Linked DNA regions of Homo sapiens: region 1 is linked to region 2. Evidence: fine-mapped expression QTL. Tissue or cell type: whole blood. Region 2 holds a variant in brackets; the other region holds the start of a gene. All regions are shown on one strand. Distances are from middle to middle.

Region 1 (8,000 bases), 77 kb after region 2:
CTCACTCTTGTTGCCCAGGCTGGAGTACAGTGGCACAATCTCAGCTCACCGCAACCTCCGCCTCCCGGGTTCAAGCAATTCTCCTGCCTCAGCCTCCCAAGTAGGTGGGATTACAGGCATCCTCTACCACGCCTGGCTAATTTTTTGTATTTTTAGTAGAGATGGGGTTTCCCCATGTTGGCCAGACTGGTCTCAAACTCCTGACCTCAGGTGATCCACCCACCTCAGCCTCCCAAAGTGCGGGGATTACAGGCGTGAGCCACCGCACCCAGCCAGAAAACTTGTAAGTTATTTTCTGTGTCTTCAAAACGTGTATAAATATTTTTAGAAGCCACACAGCCTCTTGCCAGCTTTACTACCCAGGGATGTCTTTCACAAAGACCCAGGAGCCATCTCCTTGAAATGTAAACACCAAGAAAGATGGAGCCTTCATTTCCCAGTTTCTGTGGGAGGGTAGGACTAACTTAAATGGACACTTTGCTTGAGCTGCAAAACTATCTGCTGTCATAAAAATCTGAAAAGCTGGCTGGGCATGGTGGCTCACGCCTGTAATCCCAGCACTTTGGGAAGCCGAGGTGGGTGGATCATCTGAGGTCAGGAGTTTAAGACCAGCCTGGCCAACATGGCAAAACCTCGTCTCTACTAAAAATACAAAAACTAGCCAGGCTTGGTGGTGCACACCTGTAATCCCAGCTACTCAGGAAGCTGAGGCAAGAGAATCGCTTGAACCTGGGAGGTGGAGGTTGCAGTGAGCCGAGATCACGCCACTGCACTCTAGCCTGGGCAACAGAGCAAGACTCTATCTCAAAAAAAAAAGAGAAGTTTTTCTTCTGATTAAGCCAGTTAGCTAACATAGATGGTCATCACAATTGCCAGGTGTCTCTAGACTGCACTATATGTGACAAATGGTGCTATCGAGTCCTCCTAAAGATTATTTATAGTTTATCTTGAGAACACATATGTAATGGGCTGTATCTGCTTGGCTAGATAAAAGTGAGACTTCCTTCTGTCTTTGCAGTCTCTTAGCAAACTGCCTGTGATGTGCTCACATTCTGGTTTAATGCTTATTCAATAATAAAACTGTTTTCTTTCTTCACTACTTTCGTGGAGAGGTTTTTTCTGGGTTGGGAGAAAATTTTGCTTCTAATTATATTCTCCCAACATAGCGCATGTGCTTAAAAGGGAAACAAAAGCAGGAGGGGGAAGGGTCTAGAGTGATAAGAGCTCTAGTGAGAGGCTAGGCCTAGAGAGGGACATGGAGAAATAGCATGCGGAGAGGAACGGTAGAGGAGCAACGCTAACATTCAGTTGTAAATAATACAATCATAGCAGCTAATACATAGAGGGACTACACGCCAAGCACTGTTCTCACTGTTTAGCCATATTCACTCATTTAGCATGCGCAGTAGCTTGAATCCGGTTTTTCAATTATTCATTCCCTCTCTCTGCACGTGGCCGTAGAGTACACTAGAGTGGGCAGAAAATAAGTCACAAAACAGCAAAGAAACAGTGCTTTTGGAAGTAGGTATGAGACAAACTCTTTTCTAGGCAAAAGTAACCCACGAAAATGTGTGTGGAAAGGCCAGATCCTACTATTAGGCAGGATGGGAATTTGAGCCATTTTATTTGGATATTACAGAATGGGGTGACCCCAGAAAACTGGAAGAACTGGGGACCAGCAAATGGCCGACCTGCAGTCCTGAGCAGAGGATGTAGGCCAGAGTGGACCTAGAAGATAAGAAAGGGAATTGAATCCAGTAAGGGACAGACACTTTATTTTTTTATTTTTATTTATTTATTTATTTATTTTTGAGATAGAGTCTGATCTGGAGGCTGGAAGGCGGGGCTAAAACTCCCACTCACTTACCTCTACCAACAACTAGGCCACCAAGTCATTTCTGAGGACTGGCTCAAGAAAGCAGATTTAACTTACACTGGCCTAGCCCAGGCCACCAGATGCATCCACGGAGATCCAAATGCATATAATCACTTGAATCAAGATCTAGACAGGGACGCGTGCAGCAGGCTTCATCTGACTGATTCCTGACACGGGAGAGAAAGCCTAAGCTCCGAATCATCCTTCAATGTTTACAAAGGCCCTAAATAGCAGTGGGCTAATTGCTGTTCCTGGATTTCCAGGAGACCTGAGACCCATGAAGGAGCAGGAAAGAGCTTGGGGATAAAAAATTAATCTGGAACCTACTGGAGCGGAAGGGGCTGCACTCACCTGGAAAAGACAAAGTTCTTGGGAACTGGCCACGTAGGCCAGGTCCCTAAGCAATTCCATCCCGCACCCTAACACCCCGACTGGTGTTCCTGGGTCCCTAACATTGTCTGTACCCGCTTCGGAGGTTGGACAAAATGAGTTTTTCACTGCCCTGCCTCAGGCCTCTCTCAAAGGTCTGGCCCATGATATTTGGTGTACATTGGGACCCCAGCGCCCAGATATTTGAAACGGGGTGGGGAGCGGGTGTTGAGCTGCTACATTTCCAGGTTCTAGGTACCCTGGGGAACCCCTGGTCGTTGACGGAAGCACAGCGTTCAAGGGCGGCAGAGCTCAGGTACTGGAGGACACATGGGCCGCGCCGGGTCTAGCCGCGGGACATCCCCAGACCCCAGCACGGCCTCCCAGGCCGACCTTCCAGAAGCCGGCCCACTGCCTTCCCCGGGTCCCAGCCCAGAAAAGCGGAGACCTTCCCCTCCGTTTGGAAGATGGACTCATCCCCTACTTCCTCCTGGCTCCCCAGAAGACCTGGAGACCTCGGGAAGTGTTCTCATCTATGTTCGCTCCAACCCGGGGGCTCAGGCCCACCTCGATCCCGCCTTCCCGGGAGGTCCAGGAAGGTCCCGCCGCACCCACCCCGTTGGCCTCACCCTGGCTCGGGCCCCTTTATCATCCTGCAGCTACGCTCCGACCAGGAGGCACAGCCAGTCCCCACAGCCGGCTCTACCGCTCTGCTCGCAGGTTTGGGCTAGTCTGGGGCGGGGACTTGGGAGCGCCTAAAACTTGCGAGGAGGGCGGGGCCGCAGACCGGTCCTTTAAAGGTTGGAAGTGGCCCCGAGGCGCCGGCAGCCCTGGGCGGTCCCGGGAATCGCACAGGACCCGGCTCCCCTCGCCTAAGCTGCTGGGGGGCGCCATGGGCCGCTACCGCATCCGCGTGGCCACCGGGGCCTGGCTCTTCTCCGGGTCGTACAACCGCGTGCAGCTTTGGCTGGTCGGGACGCGCGGGGAGGCGGAGCTGGAGCTGCAGCTGCGGCCCGCGCGGGGCGAGGTCAGCGCGGGGAGCGAGGGGAGCTAGGGCAGCGGGGACCCCGGGCCCAGGCCCGGGCCGAGCTGGGCTCGCGGCGGGAGGGCGGGAGGCTGGGGGCGAGGTGACAGCGCGACCTCGCGGACTGGGACTTCCACGAAGCTGGGACGAGGTGGGCAAGATTAGGGACAGGGTCCGCAGCTGGGATCCCGGGCTGGGCTCAACCCCATCTCCCTTTCCCGCCCCTGGTCCCGGCAGCCCCCAGCTCCTTCTCCCAGTGACCCAGAGCCAATGTAAGTATGAGGCCAGAGGTCAGACGTGAAGCTCCTCCAAGAACCGGCGCGGGGAGAGCTCAGTTAATGGGACCCACGTGGGCGATGCTGCTCCAGCATCAGCTCCAGGCGCTGCGGGCCCTCGTCCTCCACCCGACTCCGGGCGTCTGAGACCCAAAGAGCAGGTTGTGCGGGGGCGGGAACGAGGCGATGCTGTCTTTGGAGGCCCTGAGAAACTGAGGTTGCACAGGAGCGCGGCTCTGTCCTCGAAACGGCCTCAGTCGGGTCCCTCCTACTAAGTCTGGCCTGGGTCCGGCCTGCACAGGAGGAGGAGTTTGATCATGACGTTGCAGAGGACTTGGGGCTCCTGCAGTTCGTGAGGCTGCGCAAGCACCACTGGCTGGTGGACGACGCGTGGTTCTGCGACCGCATCACGGTGCAGGGCCCTGGAGCCTGCGCGGAGGTGGCCTTCCCGTGCTACCGCTGGGTGCAGGGCGAGGACATCCTGAGCCTGCCCGAGGGCACCGGTGAGCAGGCGGCGTCGGGGAAGGAGGCACAAGGTCTCGGGAACTGCTGCGGGGCTAGGAGGGCAGAGTTAAGGACGGTCGGAGCAGACTTAGAGGATGTATGGGCCCAGGGCAGGTGAAATGTAGGGATCCCAGGGTGCTGGACAGAAAACGGGAAGGAGTTATGAATTCCCAAAGTTTTACACAGGCTAAGAGAGGCTGCGTGTGAGGCTGGAGGCAGGGAGTAAGTGATCTGGAGATCCCATCTTCCAAGAAGGCAAAGACAGAAAGTGGGAGTTGCAGCGATCCAGGAAAACAGAGAAGCAAAGTGAAAGTAGGAAGGAGATGTAAAGGTGACTCAGAAGTCAGGTGAGGGGACCACATGGAACAGGAGGGGGTGGGTGACCCGTGAGAGCAGACAGCTAAGGGAAGAAAACATAGGATGCTGGAGAGCTGGTTTGGTTGGAATAACACGGAAGACACCCGTGAAAGACAAGAAGCACACTGGCCCGCAGGAGACGAGGAGGAATGAGGATGGCAAATAGTGAATTTTTTTTTTTTTTTTTTTTGAGATGGAGTCTTGCTTTGTTGCCCAGGCTGGAGTGCAGTGGTGCGATCTTGGCTCACTGCAACCTCCACCTCCTGGGTTCACGCCATTCTCCTGCCTCAGCCTCCCGAGTAGCTGGGACTACAGGCACCCCCCACCACACCCGGCTAATTTTTTATATTTTTTTTAGTAGAGATGGAGTTTCACCGTATTAGCCAGGATGGTCTCGATCTCCTGACCTCGTGATCCGCCCTCCTTGGCCTCTCAAAGTGCTGGGATTACAGGCTTGAGCCACCACGCCCGGCCCAAATAGTGAATTTTTAACCATGGGTAATGAGTAAAAGAGAGATGAATCCAGAGATGAGTGAGGGCAGTAGGGATGGAACATCAAATCTATGACTTTGAGACAGGTGAGTGTAAATGCAGAAAAGACCCAGAATAAGTCCATAGATACAGATTATGATAGTAAATCCAGAAAGATGAGGTTTAAAAAAAAAAAAGCAAATGTAGAATCTTTTGAGGACAGGTGAAGGCGTGGCAGGTGAGGTTTAAGATGTGAAATTAATCAAAGCAATCTGTAGTAGACAGTAGGTGTAGGTGTATAGGTGACTAAGATTTCATCACCTTAATTAAGGTGATTTTTTTCCAACCATAGATATTGATGAAGTAAGGCCAGGTAGGGGAAGATGAGTGAAGGAGCAAGAAATGGTGGCAAACAGGAGGTTTTTATCTACAGGCAAAGGATGAGGGCTGAAATAAGAGAAAGCAGGAGTGCAAAGTTGGCAAAGATGGGATAAACGTGTCTGGTGGATAATCAAATGAGGCAAAGCCAGAGATAAAAGCAACAGTGCATGGCTGAAAACATGGAATACGGCTAACCACAGGGAGATGAGGACAAGAGGCGGGCATAGGACCAGACAGAGCCGTGAGGCCAATTGTCTTGATGTCTCCCCAGCCCGCCTGCCAGGAGACAATGCTTTGGACATGTTCCAGAAGCATCGAGAGAAGGAACTGAAAGACAGACAGCAGATCTACTGGTGACCACCCACCCCTTAAACTAACCCCGCCACCACTGTCCCACCCCTTCCCTGCCCCTGCCCCTGCCCCTGGCCCCATCACTGACCATGACATCCTTCCTGAAGCTTTGTCCCCAACTCCTAGCTGGGCCACCTGGAAGGAAGGGTTACCCCTGACCATCGCTGCAGACCGTAAGGATGATCTACCTCCAAATATGAGATTCCATGAGGAGAAGAGGCTGGACTTTGAATGGACACTGAAGGCAGGGTGAGAAAAAGGCTAGACCTCGGAGTGAAATAAGGGCTGGGAGGGCCAAGAATGATGATAGACGGTGAGGGACTGAGGGATCAGCTGATGAGTTAAGCCTCAATACCTGTCCTAGGGCTCTGGAGATGGCCCTCAAACGTGTTTACACCCTCCTGAGCTCCTGGAACTGCCTAGAAGACTTTGATCAGATCTTCTGGGGCCAGAAGAGTGCCCTGGCTGGTCAGTGGTTCCCCGAGGTCTCCATAATCCCTTAATGGCCCCTCTGGATGACTCATCACACTCCACAGTCCCCCGTAACTCTTTGCAAGAAGAGACCTTATCATATCTGGTCAACTCAGAGAGGCCTTGAGAATGAAAACGCAGAAGCTGGGTTCAGGGAGGGTTATATACCTGAACCCCTGGGGTAGATTTTGGAGAAGGGATATGCAGGCTGTGGTACATATATCCTCCTTTCACCGCCCACCAAAGAGAAGGTTCGCCAGTGCTGGCAGGATGATGAGTTGTTCAGCTACCAGTTCCTCAATGGTGCCAACCCCATGCTGTTGAGACGCTCGACCTCTCTGCCCTCCAGGCTAGTGCTGCCCTCGGGGATGGAAGAGCTTCAGGCTCAACTGGAGAAAGAACTTCAGGTACCTCTCCTTCCCCTGCCTGGCACTGTTCTCTCCTTAGTAGTGTGGTGAGAACGGACAGAGAGAATCCAAACTGAGTCAGAGGAAGGCTGCAGTACTGCATTGCCCCTTGGTGCAGTCCTGTGCTGGAAAAATACAGAAATAAAATATGTAGGGGAAGAAACTATGAGGAGCTCCCAGCAGGAAGGGGAAAATAGAATGGATCCCCAGCACACAGAGAGGGGCTGGAGATGTTAGCAGGAACAGTGACATTGCCTGGCCGCAGTGTTCTGGACTCCAGTGTTCATGGGCAGGGAGAAAAGTGAGGAAGTGCCATCAGGTGGGGAGAATCGGGGAGGCTTTCTAGAAAAAGAGAGCGGGGTTTGGAAGCAATGGACTGTACTGAGGACAAGCCTAGGCAAAATGTGTGCGTATGCATGTGTGTGCTGTATGCGGTGGCAGGGGTAGTAGGGGAAGCTCTCTGGAATATTTGGCAGAGGATGTGAGATTTGAATAGGGAATGAAAGAGCATTTGCTGAGCTGATAGGAGCCAAAACCAGAGCGCAGACCATTCGGGAATGATCAGAAAGGGGCCTGGCCATTTGACAGGTGGTCAGTTTACAATGCCTGTGATGCCAACTGGATTGAGCAGGCCTGGTTCCAAACCCAGATCTGCCACCACATCCACACACAAGACATCTACCCTCACCAGACTGTTTCTTCACTTTAAGATGAGAGGAACTGGACCAGGGGCTCTAGTTCTCCCAACAGGGCTCCGGTACTGATGCAGGAGAATGGCAAGAAGCTAGACTAAATCTCTTGCCCTTTGCCCCGGCCCCCTGGGGGTAGACTTTGAACTCTAAAAATGGATACATCCCTCCTGTCCCCAGAATGGTTCCCTGTTTGAAGCTGACTTCATCCTTCTGGATGGAATTCCAGCCAACGTGATCCGAGGAGAGAAGCAATACCTGGCTGCCCCCCTCGTTATGCTGAAGATGGAGCCCAATGGGAAGCTGCAGCCCATGGTCATCCAGGTAAGGGCCCCAGACCTCTCCCACAACGTTGCACTCTGTTCACCTCAACCTCTGCTCCCAGGGACCCAACCCCCAGCTCTTGGCTCCCAAACCCCATCCTCACTCAGTGAGACTTGTCTTCATGTCACTATTTGCCTGTACCCTCGTCTCCCCTGCCTCATCCAACTAGAATTACTTTTTCAAGAGTCAAAATGGCCTCCTGGAGTTCTCATCCTGTATCCAATGGTCCTCACACTTCAGTGTGCATCAGAATCACCTGAATGCCTGTTGAAATGCAGATTTCTGGATCCCATGACCAGACTTTCTGATTCAGTATGTCTGGGGTGGGAACTAAGAGTTTGCGTTTTTATAAGTTCCAAAGTGATGCTGACACTACCAGTTCAGGACTACACTTTCAGAATCACTATCTCATCTCTCAGTGGCCTCTGGCTCTGAACCCTCGCCATCTCTTGAATATCTTTTCTCGCAATTTCTTTTTTTTTTTTGAGACAGAATCTCACT
Region 2 (8,262 bases):
ACCTCTTCTACTGGCCTGAAACCTGAACCATCAAACCAGTAAATAAAATACTGGGGGAAAATAAATAAATAAAAAGTGCATGAGATGGGAGAAGGAGATAAGCTTTAAGAAACCTCTACCATTCCAACCCCCTAGGAGATAATGGAATGGAAAACCAAACACTGTATGTTCTCACTTATAAGTGAGAGCTAAGCTAGGAATACGCAAAGGCATACAGAGTGATATAACGGACTTTAGAGATTCAGAAGGAGATTCAGGAGGGTGGGAAGAGGACCAAGGGAACAAAATCTATGCATTAGGTACAATGTACACCATTCAGGTGACGGGTGCACCAAAATCTCAGACTTCACCGCTATATAATTCATCCATGTCACCAAAAACCACCTGTACCCCATTAATAAATTAATAATAAAATAAATTTTTAAAAAAAGTTTTAGCTCACTGAGTGAGCTTGCAGCAGAATGGAGACAGCAAAGGAAACAGTCAGTGAATTTGAAGATAGCTCAATAGAAACTATGCAATTTGAATGACATCAAGAAAAAATTGTTTAAGTAAATAGAGTCTCAAGGACATGAAGGACAAAACCAAAAGGTCTAACATTCATGTCATCAGAGTCAAAGAAAGATAAGAGTGTGTGGTGCACAAAAAAAATAAATAACGACTTCCAATTTTTCAAATTTCATAAAAGATATAACTTACAGCTTCGAAAATCTCAACAAATCACCAACAGGATAAAACAAACAAATCCTCATCCAGATAATCACAATCAAACTAGTGAAAACTAAAGCCAAAGAAAAAAATCTTGAAAGCAAGCAGAGAAAAGCAATGTATTTCCCATAGAGAAATAATAATTTGAATGACTGCAGGGTTCTCATCAAAAACAATGGAGGCCAGAAGATTCATCTGACAAAGCACTAATATCCAGAATCTACAACAAACTCAAACGAATTAGCAAGAAAACAACAATCCCATCAAAAAGTGGGCTAAGGACATGAATAGACAACAATTCTCAAGATATACAAAATGACCAACATATGAAAAATGCTCAACATCACTAATCAGGAAAACACAAATCAAAACCACAATGTGATACCACCTTACTCCTGCAAGAATGGCCATCATCAAAAAAATCAAAACATAATAGACGTTGGCACGGATGTAGTGAACAGGGAACACTTCTACACTGCTGGTGGGAATGTAAACTAGTACAACCACTATGGAAAACAGTGTGGAGATTCACAGAGAACTAAAAGTAGAACTACCATTCGATCCAGCAATCCCACTACTGGGCATCTACCCAGAGGAAAAGAAGTCATTATACAAAAAAGGTACTTGCACACACATGTTTATAGCAGCACAATTCGCAATTGCGAAACTGTGGAACCAACCAAAATGCCCATCAATCAACAAGTGGATAAAGAAACTGTGATATGCATATACACATACATACGATGGAATACTACTCAGCCATAAAAAGCAACGAGTTAATGGCAGCAACCTGGATGCAACTGGAGACTATTATTCTAAGTGAAGTAACTCAGGAATGGAAAACCAAATATCCTATATTCTCACTCATAAGTGGGAGCTAAGCTATGAGGATGCAAAGGCATAAGAATGACACAATAGAATTTGGGGACTCAGGGGGAAAGGGCGGGAAGAGGGTGAAGGATTAAAGAACACAAATTGGGTGCAGTGTTTACTGCTCAGGTAATGGGTGCACCAAAATCTCATAAATCACCACTAAAGAACTTACTCAGGTAACCAAACACCACCTGTTCCCCAATAACCTGTGGAAAGAAAATTTTTTTAAAAAAAGAAAGTAGAATAATATTTTTAAAGTGCTGAAAGAAAAGAGCTATCAACTCAGAATTCTATATCCAGAAAAAAATATCTTTGAGAAATGAAGGTGAAATGATGACATTCTCAGATGAAAAGAAGAAAAAAAAACTAAGACAATCAATTTCCAGCATATGTAATCTAAAAGAATTGCTTAAGAAATTTCTTCAGACAGAAGGGAAGTGATGTGAGAAGGAAACCTGGAACACGGGGAATCAAGCGAGAACAACAGAAACATTAAATATCTGGGTAAATATAACAGACTATCCCTCTCCTAATGAGTTCTTTAAAATATATTTGATGGTTAGAAGCAAATATTTTAACATGACTAAAAGATTTTTAATATACACAGATGTGATTAATGGGCTGACCATCTGAGTTCATCTGCTCTCAGCCAAAAAAATAACCACGGCTTCTCCCTCTGCTCAGCATGTCTTTTCTCTACCATGAGGTTCTACTTCTTTGTAACTTCTGTTCCCCATGGCCATCTTGGCCCCTCTGGCTTCTCTCCGTCTTTGTTCCTATTGCTAACTGCCTGATCCTCTCTGTATTTTCCAGATCAACACACACACACACACACACCCATAGTGAGAAACTGACCCTGCTCTTTTGTCTGGGGAGTGGTCCCATCCAAGTACACCTCTGACTGTGGATGGGGCAGATTTCCTTATAAGGGGATGGCAGGTATTATGATCGCCATGTAGAATTCAGATGCATTAAACATTTTGTTATTCTGAGAACCATGCCACACATTTACACCCCTCTAAGCCTTGATATGGTCTATTCCTTCTTCCTGGGATTTCTTTTCCTCTTTGCCTAGAAAACTTGTACATATCCTTAAAAATCCAACACGAGGGCTCAGTCACTCCTCCTTTCTCTTCAGTCCCCATTGCCCTTACATCCAACCTCTATTCAAGTATTTAATATGCTCTTTGGACACTGGTTGTCTATACATTTGTCGCCCCAACCAGACAGCTTGCTCCCAAAAGGAGGCATCAGGAGATTCTCATTACTATATTCCTACTGCCCATTAACCGTTATATTCATTCATGTCTTGTCATCCATTCAACAAATATTAATTGAATGTCCACTGTGTGTCAGCCTCTGTATGAGGCACTGGAATGCAAACGTGAACAAGTCAGAGTCCCTGCCCCCTCGGAGATTAGCGTGGACCACACTGTGTCTGGCACATAGTGAATGTTCAGTAAGTTATTTTTAAGTTGGATCGTACTTGCTTATAGTTCTCTACCAAGGAGCCCTTTGACCTTTCTCAGACATCAGAGCTTTCACAGATGAAAAGGAGTGGAAAGTTAAGTGGGCCATGATTCCCAAAAGCACCTCAGACTTGGTTATCAAAAACCAAGCAACTCTTCTAGTCCTTATGTGTCCCACATCTCAGCAAATACACACACATCATATACCTAGTTACCCCAGCCAAGAACCAGGGAGTAACAATGACCAATCTTTCCTTCTCTTCTGCTCTCTCTCACACAGTCTACTCTTTCTCTTTCTCTTCCTGTCATCACCAATTAAACAATGGAGTCCTGACCGCTCCACTTCCTT[C/T]GCATGTCTTCCACCCTGCCCGTCTCCATTCCTGCTTCCCCTGCTTGCTGCAGGCCTTTATTATCTCTCCCCAGCACACCAAAGACGTCTCCTCATGGGTCTCCTGTTTTCTGTGCAACCACATCACTCATCTCTTCCTGACCCAAAATTCATGAATTTCCCTGAAATTTCATCAGCTCCCTGCAACTCTTGCTGTCTGTTTGCCCAGAATGCCTACCCTCTCCCCAACTGTCCTTCATTCCCATCAACCCGGTAGATATCTACACAGATTTAAAGACTCAGCTCAAGTTGCCTCCCTGAGAAGCCTTTTCTATCTCCTCGAGGTGAACCTATCCCTCCCTGCTTTGTGCCCCCATAATACCCCACACGGGATTCTTTCTCCATTGTAACACACTGTTGCATTTACTTTTTATGTCTTTGTTTCCCCCCACTAGACTAGGAACTCCTTGAGGGAAAACAAAATCTCTATGTTCTCAATGCCTGGTGCATAGTATATGCTCAATAAATACTTTTCTGAATGAATCCAGTAAACAAAATACTTCCCTGTCTTTGGCCTTTGTGAAACAAGCAGCTAGACCTTCCAGGACGGGCTTCTTTGAGCCTCTACAAGAGTCAAATTAAGTAAGTAATTCACTGGGTTGTCTGCCTTTGTAGATCTGAGGAGGCCAAACTCCACCTAATTTTCCCTACCCTGAGGCCCATCTGGTTCTCACCCAACAACTTCATGAGCACATCCAGATGGTCCCTCTAACATGAGCACTGCCAATGACATGTAGGACAGTCTCACACAATCTCATACTCGTATCCCTCTTCTGCGATCTTAATCCCCAAACCCAATTTTGCCTCTCCTTTAACCCTGTGTCCCCACCACAGTTTTATCCTTCATCCATTCCTATAACATGTCCCCTGTTTATTCCCCAAACTTTATCTTCTTGCCTTCAAACCTTCAACCTATGCATAAGCATAATCATTCTACATAAAAGCTATTGAGACTAGGCATGGTGGCACATGCCTGTAATCCTAGCACTTTGGGAGGACAAAGCAGGAGGAATGCTTGGGGCCAGAAGTTCAAGACCAGCTTGGGCAACATAGCCAGACCCCCATCTCTATGAAAAGTTAAAAAAAAAAAATGGTAGCCAGGTGTGGTGGCCTGCACCTGTAGTCCTAGCTACCTGGGAGACTGGGGCTGGAGGATCCCTTGACCCAAGGAATTCAAGGCTGTGGTGAACTATGATCATGCCACTGCATTCCAGCCTAGGTGACAGAGAGAGACCCTGTCTCTCAATATATAAATAATTTTTTCAAAAAGTTATTGAACATCTATGATGTCCAGATCCTGTGCCAGGCACTGAAGATAAATAGAGAAATAGAAGGTAAATAGAGATAGGTAGAGTCTCTGCACAGGGGAAACTCAGGGAGGCCAAAGAGATAATATATAATATGTAAATACCAACCCAGTCTATCAATAAGCATTGGCCTCAGGTTTTGGAAGGGTCAGTTCCATGGACTGTGGAGGTGGTCAAAAAATGCTTTGTGTGTGTGTGTGTGTGTGTGTGTGTGTGAAGATGGGGTCCCACTATGTTGTCCAGGCTAGTCTCAACTCCAGGGCTCAAGCAATCCTCCCACCTCAGACTCCCAGAGTGCTGGGATTACAAATATGAGCCACCACGCCCAGCTAAAAGAATGCTTCTTGAAAGAGACAGGGCTTGACTGGGATTTGAGCTGGGAAAAAAGTTCTTCAACAAGTTCAAAAAAAAGGAGATCAAAATTTCAGATTGAGTTAGTGGCTCAAGGAAAGACCCAGGAGTCAGCAAATGCAGTGTTTTAAGAGACCAATAACTAAATGATTTGGGCTGGAGTGGAACACGGGCGTGGGAAGAGCAGGAGGTGAGTCTAGGAAGACAGTTTGGTGGTAGACGGTGGGAGGTATAATTACCAGGATTAGAAATTGGGACAGTGGCAGGTAAGCAAGAAGGTGAGGAATTCTGTGTTCAGGAGGAAGAGGATTAACACGTAAATAGCATTTTATAAAGGTTCATGTGGCAGCTGTAAGGAGATGGGTTGGAGTGGGGACAGATTCATGGTAGGAAGTCTATCATGATCTAGGTGGTAAAATAGACTGAAACTATGGGATGGAGGAGAAAGATATTACAGGAGAAGAACCAGTTAGAGCTGGATGTTAATGAGAAAAGTCAAGGATAAGGCCAATGTTTTGAGCCCATGACTTTGGGTATACACAAATGCCAGTGATAAAAAATGGAAAGCTTAAAGAAGGAAACTGAGACAAATGACTGACTTTGGTCGTCGACAAATCTTTATGAGCAGTGGTGGGTATGAGATAAAGGAAGAGATGTCCAGCAAGTAATGGCAAATCCAGACTTGGAACTTTTGAGAGAAGTCAGATATTGAAGAGGAGATGAGGGAGCCACCTGCGTGGAAGAGGAGACCTGCAAGAGCAAAGGATGTGGAGGGAAGAGCAGGACTGAGCCTTGAGATCCGCCTTTTCAGGAGGAGGAAGGGGGCCAGGCGCCGTGGCTCATGCCTGTAATCCCAGCACTTTGGGAGGCCGAGGCGGATGGATCACCTGAGGTCAGGAGTTCGAGACCAGCCTGGCCAACATGGTGAAACTCCATCTCTACTAAAAATACAAAAATTGGCTGGGCACGGTGGCTCACGCCTATAATCCCAGCACTTTGGGAGGCCAAGGCAGGTGGATCATGAGGTTAGGGGTTTGAGACCAGCCTGACCAACATGGTGAAACCCCATCTCCACTGAAAATACAAAAAAATTAGCTGGGCGTGGTGGCGGGTGCCTGTAATCCCACCTACTCAGGAGGCTGAGGCAGGAGAATTGCTTGAACCCGGGAGGCAGAGGTTGCAGTGAGCCAAGATCGCACCACTGCACTCCAGCCTGGGCAAAGGAGCAAGACTCTGTCTCAAAAAAAAAAAAAAATACAAAAATTAGCCAGGTGTGGTGGTGCACGCCTGTAGTCCCAGCTACTCGGAGGCTGAAGCACAAGAATCGCTTGAACCTGGGAGGCAGAGGTTGCAGTGAGCCGAGATCACACCACTGCACTCCAGTCTGGTGACAGAGTGAGACTTTGTCTCAATCAGAAAAAAAAAAAAAGAGAGAAGGAAGGGGAAAGAATAGAGAGCCCACCTGGAGGTTAGGAGGAGAACCAGCACAGGGACGAAGCAGCCAGTGGCAGAGAGAGGTTCGAGGCTTAGGAGGTTGGTGTTGCCTGGTATCCTGTAAGTTTGTATTCTTATGGTTTGTATGCACAGGAAGAAAGCATGTGAAGAAATACACCAGATTGTTAGGAGCAGTTAAAAAACAAAAAGCAAACAAAAAAGTGGTGAAAAGGAGCTGAGGATGTTCCCTTCTATTGTCCATGAATTTTTACAATTAGTAGTGATTATTTTAATAATTATCCCCACTGCCACGCCAGCCAAAAAGCAGTGGTGACAAGTCACTTTGCTCTCCCACATCTCTCTCTCTCTCTCTCCAGCCATGCCTCTTCCCTCCTTCTCAGCACCCCGTCTCTCCCCCAGCACACCCCTAATCTTTCCACTCCAGGCTTTAAACTCTTTGACATAGTTTCCTCCAAGTGTTGGTCAGCTACTCTTTGTGGGGAGAAGAGTAAACTGTCCCAGGGGCCAACATAAAAAGAGAGCTTGTTTCTGCCTCTAATGTTTTGTTCATGGTGGTTCCCGTACCTGTTACTTTCCCTCCACTTATTGTTTCCAGCATTTTTTTTTTTTTTTTTTTTTGAGACAGAGACTCACTGTGTCGCCAGGCTGGAGTGCAGTAGCGCGATCTCGGCTCACTGTAACCTCCACCTCCTGGGTTCAAGCGATTCTTCTTCTCAGCCTCACAAGTAGCTGAAACTACAGGCACATGCTACCACACCCATTTAATTTTTGCCTGTAGTCCTGGCAACTCAGGAGGCTGAAGTGGGAGGATCGCTTGAGCCTAGGAGGTGGAGGTTGTAGTGAGCTGAAATTGTGCCTGTGCACTCCAGCCTGGGTGACAGAGTGAGACCCTGTCTCAAAAATAAAAATAGTAACATACAAGAGTGGTTTCTTAGTTATGACAATTGACCAGTCATGTGAGATGAGAACATCAGGAGAAGCAAACTGGGGGAGGGGAATACAAGAACTCTCTGTTGTCTTCATTAATTCTCTGTGCGTCTAAAATTATTCCAAAATAAAAAGTTTATTGAGAAAATACATTAGCAACATGGAAAATGCTTATGATATAATATTAAATGAAAAAAAGGATGACAGGTATCTGCTCAGGGTAAAAAAGAAGATAAATGGGGAGAGAAGGAGGAAGTGAGAGTTGGCTTCCTCCTACCTGTCCCACCTCGTCTCAACTCCCTGATTCCATTCTTGCTGATGCAGCCGCCCAAAGGAGTATCTGCCACTTTATTTCCTGCCAGTTCAAATCCCATCCCATCAGCTCTCATTAAGAAACCCTTTCCGGCCGGGCATGATGGCTCATACCTGTAATCCCAGCACTTTGGGAGGCCAAGGCGGACGGATCACCTGAGGGCGGATCACCTGAGGAGTTCGAGAGCAGGCTGGCCAACATGGTGAAACCCCGTCTCTACTAAAAATACAAAAATTAGCCGGGCATGGTGGCGGGCACCTGTAATCCCAGCTACTCAAGAGGTGAGGCAAGAGAATCACTTGAGCCCAGGGGGCAGAAGTTGCAGTGAGCCAAGATCAAGCCATTGCACTCCAGCCTGGGTGACAGAGCAAGACTCTCTCTCAAAAAAAAAAAAAAAAAAAAAAAAAAAAAAAAGAATAAGAAGGAATAGAAAGGAAGGCAGAGTACTGATGACATCTGATCCAGCCACAC

Evidence for each region. PIP is the estimated chance that this variant, and not a neighbour inherited with it, causes the effect.
Region 1: it holds the start of ALOX12, and the variant in region 2 is fine-mapped to the expression of ALOX12 in whole blood (TOPMed, PIP above 0.99).

Annotation. Positions count from the first base shown.
Region 1 is chr17:6,992,981-7,000,980 of GRCh38, forward strand. It overlaps ALOX12 (arachidonate 12-lipoxygenase, 12S type), which reads left to right and starts at 3,069. Exons shown (of 14, transcript NM_000697.3): 1 at 3,069-3,272; 2 at 3,846-4,047; 3 at 5,529-5,610; 4 at 5,735-5,857; 5 at 5,973-6,076; 6 at 6,326-6,486; 7 at 7,356-7,499. The coding sequence starts at 3,138. The region is part of intron 2 of ALOX12-AS1 (ALOX12 antisense RNA 1); the gene reads right to left.
Region 2 is chr17:6,915,830-6,924,091 of GRCh38, forward strand. No RefSeq gene overlaps it. Among named protein-coding and RNA genes, the nearest start is that of ALOX12, 76 kb to the right of the region's middle. The variant C/T (reference allele first, on the strand shown) is at 3,400.